Homo sapiens: one gene and its partner. The protein of the gene in region 1 purifies or fractionates together with the protein of each later gene. This does not show direct contact. Each region holds a gene or a part of one and is shown on either strand. Other genes may lie near its edges. The genes, in order: SLC25A17 and ARID4B.

Region 1 (2,938 bases):
GAAGCAAGCTACATGTCCATCAACAGATAAATGGATAAAGAAAATGTGGTACTTATACAAAATGCAGTACTATTCAGCCATCAAAAAGAATGAGAGTTTGTTGTTTGTAACAACATGGATGGAACTGGAGGTCATTCTGCTAAGTGAAACAAACCAGGCACAGAAAGACAAATATCGCATGTTCTCACTTATTTGAGGGACCTAAAAATCAAAACAATTGAACTCATGGAGATAAAGGTAGAAGGATGGTTACCAGAGACTACTGGGAAGAGTAGTGGCGGGGGGAAGGTGGGGATGGTTAATAGGTACAAAAATAGATAGTTTGAATAAGACCTAGTATTTGCTAGCACAACAGGTGACTATAGTCAATAATAATTTAATTGTACATTTAAAAATAACTAAAAGAGTATAATAGGACTGTTTGTAACAAAAAGAATAAATGTTTGAGAGGATAGATACCCCATTTTCCATGATGTGATTATTATGCTTTGCATGCCTGTATCAAAACATCTCACATACCTCAAAAATATATACCTACTATGTACCCACAAAAATCAAAAATTAAAAAATTAAAAAAAAAAAAACAAAGCCATTATTAACATTTGTATACAAGCTTTTGTGTAGACATATGCCTTCATTTCTCTTGGGTAAATACCCTGAAGTGGATGGCTGGGTCCTATAATAGGTGTGGTATATAAAAATTTTTAAAGAAAATGCCAAATTGCCTTCCAAAGCAGCTGTACCATTCTATATTCCCACCAGCAGCATAAGAAAGTAAGTTCTGGTTGCTCCAACATCCCTCCCAATACTTGATATAGTGAGTATTTATTTTTTACTTTATACATATTCTTTGTCTTTTATTTTATTTTATTTTTTGATAGAAGGTCTCACTCTGTTGCTCAGGCTAGAGTGCAGTGGCACAATCACAGCTCACTGCAGCCTCGACCTCCTGGGTTCAAGCAATCCTTCCACCTCAGCCTCCTGGGTAGCTGGGACTACAGGCAGGCACCAGGATGCCTAGCTAATTTTTTATTTGTGTAGAGACGGGGTCTCACTATGTTGCCCAGGCCAGTATCAAACTCCTGAGCTAAAGCGATCTGCCTGCCTTGGCCTCCTAAAGTGCTGGGATTATAGGTGTGAGCCACCACGCCCAGCCTAATTTTGTCTTTTAGTCCCTTGAATGTTCTTTTTTTTTTTTTATTTTTTTTATACAAGGTCTTGCCTCTTTAGCCCAGGCTGGAGTACAGTGGTGCCATCATAGCTCAGTACAGCCTCAATCTGCCGGGCTCAAGTGAATCTCCTGCTTCAGCCTCGTGTGTAGCTGTGATTACAGGTTTGTGCCACATGCTTGGCTAATTTTGTAAATATTTTTTGTAGAGACAGGGTCTCACTACTTTGCCCAGGCTGGTCTTGAACTCCTGGCCTCAAGCTATCCTCCTGTCTCAGCCTTCCAAAGTGTTGGGATTACAGGCATGAGCCACTTTGCCTGGCTGCATATTTTATTTTAATAATAAATTTATTTTCAAAGTATCTTGTATCTAGGAACAGTAATAAAGTTATAAGAGCTTTTGCTTCAAAGGAGGTCCCTGACTTATCTGACTTCACTAAGTGTCAGTTTCTTTAAATGAAACAGGAAATGACAATAGTTCTTAACTCACAGAGCTACTGTTAGGATTGACAAGGCTGGGCGCGGTGGCTCACACCTGTAATCCCAGCACTTTGGGAGGCTGAGAAGGGCAGATCACGAGGTCAGGAGATCAAGACCATCCTGGCAAACACAGTGAAACCCCATCTCTACTAAAAAATACAAAAAATGAGCCAGGCGTGGTGGCAGGCGCCTGTAGTCCCAGCTACTTGGGAGGCTGAGGCAGGAGAATGGTGTGAACCCAGGAGGCGGAGCTTGCCGTGAGCGGAGATAGCGCCACTGCACTCCAGCCCGGGCAACAGAGCGAGACTCTGTCTCCAAAAAAAAAAAAAAAAAAAAAAAGGATTGAGATTACCTATGTGTAGCCTCTAGGTCAGTGTCTGCCACATGGCAAACCACTGAAAATGTTAGCTACTCTTACCAACACCACCATCATCATTATCATCATCATCATCACTATTATCACTTTTTCCACTGCCCCCTCCCTTCTCCAGTACTCCTATTCTATAGGCAGATGTTATATTGCTAAGAGGCATCATAGGATATGCCACTGATGAAAGCACACTCAGGGTGACTGAAGTATAGAAGGGTTCTCTTTCTGAAGGAGTTCTGAATATTTGTAACTAACAAAGAATAAGAACCTGAACTTTTCCATAATTTCCCAAAATGCTGTCATACTGTACTAGGCTCCTAAAATGGGAAATGTCTAAGCACAGCAAGCAAGGGAAAGGTTTTGGAGGTTGCCACCACCAAGGCAGTAGTGTGAGAGAGGGAAATGCAACCCCTCCCTGGCAGAGATGGCTGCTGAAGGAGAGCACGGAATGTGAGGCATCTACAAAGCTCACCTTACTCGTTGGTGAAGAAGATAGAGAATATTCCGAAGACTTCCCAATGTTCTGTTTTCTGGGTTTAGTCTATGACGCCCAAACTGAGGAAAGAGGGAAAAAAAACAAAAGTACTGTTGCTGTTTTTTAAAATCTTCATTTTTACCTGGGGAGGATATTATGTTGGAGTAGTATCTTATAGCATACATTAATAAATTTATCCAATTAGTACCATAGATTTCATTAATCCTGTATTTTTCAACTGAGTGAAATATTTCAATCAAATAAGTGAAAATAAGAAAAATTTTTCCTTTTTTTTTTTTTTTGAGACATCTTCTCACTCTGTCACCCAGGCTGGAGTGCAATGGCACAATTTTGGCTCACTGCAACCTCCACCTCCCAGGTTCAAGTGATTCTCCTGCCTCAGCCTCCCGAGTAGTTGGGATTATAGACATGTACCACCACGCCC
Region 2 (3,830 bases), on another chromosome or scaffold:
TGACCTGTACAGGCTATGAAGGGAAAGGAATTAAGTAACACAAAATAAAATCCAACATTCCCTAAGTATAAATTAATTCCACATTTTAGAAACATAGAACAATCCAAAACTACATGTTCTTTATGACATTTATAAGTTGTCACAGAACTTACTACAATTTTTAAATAAACTGTCATTAATGGAAGCTCAATTCTTATACATAATAAAAGTCAGGGTTTTTAAAAAGGCAAACAAAGTATGCACATCCTTCTTTAAAAAAATCAGATATAAACTGAAAATAGTCCTTAATATAGTACTGGGAGTTTATAAGCCTAGTAATTAAAAGTATATGCTGAAAATAAAAACTGAAATTTGTTAAGATTCAATAAAACCAAAATATTAAGACTTAATCACAGGTTAAAATGTTAATGACATTATGTCTTATAATCATATTAATATAATTTTTAAATGATATAAATGAGGTAAATTTTAGCAGTAATTCATACTTGGTTCTTTTTTACCAATTTATGTCAAGAATAACTAAGCTCCCAGGGCACTGTTTGGTTAACATGCATACCATTTACAAATCCAACATAGTAGTTCTAAAAAACGTCTCATCTTCTTGGTGGGAAATTATTGCAAAACATTACAAATAAATGTCTCCCTTTTCTTCAAGGACTAGCCCAAGTCCTACATCTTCACTAAGATGTTCCAGGCTTCACTGATCAATCACTACTCTGAACTGTAGCATTTTTCTATACTACTCATTTGGTCCTTAACATCTGCTATATTTCTGTCTAATTCATATATGTTATCTCTCAGACTATATAAAGTAAGATTTTTTCTCCAGAGACTAATAAAGTACTATCTCCATTCAGTTCCAATGTCAGACACCAAATCAACCTTCTGTGTATAAAACCTAACTTCCTTGATCAAAAACAGGACAAGTAATTAACTGTCTGCAACTTCCTAGCTTTTTTTTAATGGGTCATATAATCTTACTTACAACTTTTCCTAATACCTTTTTAAATTTTTAATATTTCTTTTTTATTTTTTACACCAAGTATGTGACCCACCTAATGTCATTTTAATATCACAATTTAAGTGAAACATAAAGGAGACGTAGATATTGACCATACTGAAGCACAGAACCATAATTGTCAGGTTTCTCTCCAAGAGAGTTTAATTCTAAAGTGTTCAGATACTAAGAAATAAAAACCTTCAATGTAGAGTAAATTAAGAGGAAAAAACTACATCTAAATAGTAAAACTTAAATTTTAACTTGTGATATAGTGGGGAGTCTCCAATATTCATAGTAAGTAAATTTATTAAAATGTGGCCATGTGAAACAGGTGCTTAAGAACCTATTTCTGGCTGGGCGCGGTGGCTCATGCCTGTAATTCCAGCACTTTGGGAGGCCAAGGTAGGTGGATTACCTGAGGTCAGGAGTTCGTAGACCAGCCTGGCCAACATGGCGAAACCCCATCTCTACTAAACAAAATACAAAAATTAGCCGGGCGTTAATCCCAGATACTCAGCAGGCTGAGGCAGGAGAATCTCTTGAACCTGAGAGGTGGAGGTTGCAGTGAACCAAGATTGCACCACTGCACTCCAGCCTGGGCAACAAGAGCAAAACTCTATGTCTCAAAAAAAAAAAAAAAAAAAAAAAAAAAACCCAACAAAAAGAAAAACACCAATTATTTCTAAAGAGATATAAATTACCCTAAATTTAGGAGTAGCTTTCAAATTCCACAATTATTAACCTAGTCAAGATTAAGATTCAAAAGGGCAGTGTTGACTTAGTCTATTAGCAGAGAAGATATCCTCTTTTTTTTTGTTGTTAATTTTAATCTTTTGTAAGATATTACGAACATAATAAGGATACAACCTCTTAAAAACTACAACAATAGGCTAGGCACGGTGGCTCATGCCTGTAATCCTAGCACTTTGGGAGGCCAAGGCAGGCAGATCATGAGGTCAAGAGATAGAGACCATCCTGGCTAACATGGCGAAATGCCATCTCTACTAAAAATACAAAAAATTAGCTGGGCATGGTGGCACACGCCTGTAGTCCCAGCTACTCAGCAGGCTGAGGCAGGGGAATCACTTGAACCCAGGAGACGGAGGTTGCAGTGAGCCCAGATCACACCACTGCACTCCAGCCTGGGCAACAGAGCGAGACTCCATCTCAAAAAAAAAACCCCCAAGAAAACCTATAACAATAAAACCTGTTTTTTTCTTTCTTTTCTTGTTTTTTCTTTTTTTTTTTTTTTTTTTTTTGAGACAGGGTCTTGTTTTATCACCCAGGCTGGAGTGCAGTGGCGTGATCTTGGCTCACTGCAGCCTTTCCGGGATCAAGTGATTCTCCCTCATCAGCCCCCAAGGTAGCTGGGACTACAGGCATGCGCCACCACAGCTGGCTGACGTTTGTATTTTTGGTAGAGATGGGGTTTTGCCATGTTGTCCAGGCTGGTCTTGAACTCCTGGACTCAAGCGATCCACCGCCTTGACCTCCCAGACCTCCCAAATTGCTGGGATTACAGGTGTGAGTGACCACACCTGGCCAGTAAAATCTTACTGTTGAAAGCCTAATATTCTGAAATAAAGGATTCTTTCATTTTGAAGATTAGTCATGCCTGGATAGTTCAGTTGCATGAGATAGTATGGCACAGATAAAATCATAGTAGTTATACTTGTAAATGTGAAAAAAAGCAAAGAACATTTCAATTTAATTGCAAGTATTTTTTTAATTTATTTTAAAACAGAAATGTTTTAAGTCAAGATTCCTGAGAAAACATAGAATTAACTAATTTGATCTAGACCATATCTCTTTAAGCTTTGCTGAAAACCTAAAGCTAGCATTCTAAAATCTTTTACGGTATATAAAAAACATACTCCAGTGCTCTGTCTTTACGATGGAAAAGTGTGTTCCAAAGCCAGGTGTCAGCCTAGAGTATACTGATTTAAAGATACCTGAATGAAGTGGTTTATAAGAAAAATGATGACAGAAGTATGGCTATGGCACCATCGAAAGGCACTAATACTTTGGGAAGGTACCGATTTGAATTTCCACTTTTAACAATTTCACGGAAAATCAAAAAAGTATTACTGTAGGTTATTAACGTACACATTGGTCCTTCAATTTGGAAGCTATGCATCTAAGAAAGCATCAAATTCCTTTACAAACTCACACAAGTTAGTCAGGCTTGAAAATCAGTTTGACACGGTTGTCTGAGGAAAGCAGTGCCTGGACAGTTGGTTGCTCCAAACCCCTACATACAGTATTTGGTTAAGGGTGGAGGGGTCTGTCAATAAATCAAAATGTTCGTGAGAAACTGCACATTACAATTGCAAAAACAATGTTACAGAAATAGATTTAAGCTGCTCATGCCATATAGTCAACCACTGCATATAATGAATTCTCAAACAGGTTTGGATTTGGGCCTGGGTGCAATTTCTAGCATGTGTTCTGGTCCACAATAAAATGCCATGGATGGCTCAAGCAAAGCACATTAAAGCCTTCTCAAGCTTTTAAATGCATTCCACTATTCATTTTCAAATTACCTTTAAAATTTCCATTTTTACCATGTTCACACAAATATGACACTTAATCGCCTCAGGTTATAACAAGAGATACTGTGAAATCATTGAAACTTTAAGAGGGGAAACCCTAAAATAAGTCAACATACACATTTTCCTTCTCACCTTTTTCAGGATGTTCTGGTTCTGGCTGATTACTACTGCTTGAGCTCACACTGGCATCAAAACCTGCTGGCGAGCTATTCCCTTCAGACTGGAGGTCTTGGAGCTCCCCAGCAACACTATCCACCTCAATTGTGCTATCAGTTTCA

The links.
Region 2: the proteins of SLC25A17 (region 1) and ARID4B purify together in Homo sapiens (affinity purification with mass spectrometry; one large-scale study listed by BioGRID and IntAct). This does not show direct contact.

Annotation. Positions count from the first base shown.
Region 1 is NC_000022.11:40,771,447-40,774,384, forward strand, and holds part of SLC25A17 (peroxisomal membrane protein PMP34), read right to left. Parts: intron 2,574-2,938; coding exon 2,491-2,573; intron 1-2,490.
Region 2 is NC_000001.11:235,177,901-235,181,730, forward strand, and holds part of ARID4B (AT-rich interactive domain-containing protein 4B), read right to left. Parts: coding exon 3,685-3,830; intron 3,285-3,684; coding exon of another isoform or gene 3,193-3,284; exon of another isoform or gene 3,171-3,192; intron 14-3,170; coding exon 1-13. UniProt on the Homo sapiens protein: Acts as a transcriptional repressor. May function in the assembly and/or enzymatic activity of the Sin3A corepressor complex or in mediating interactions between the complex and other regulatory complexes.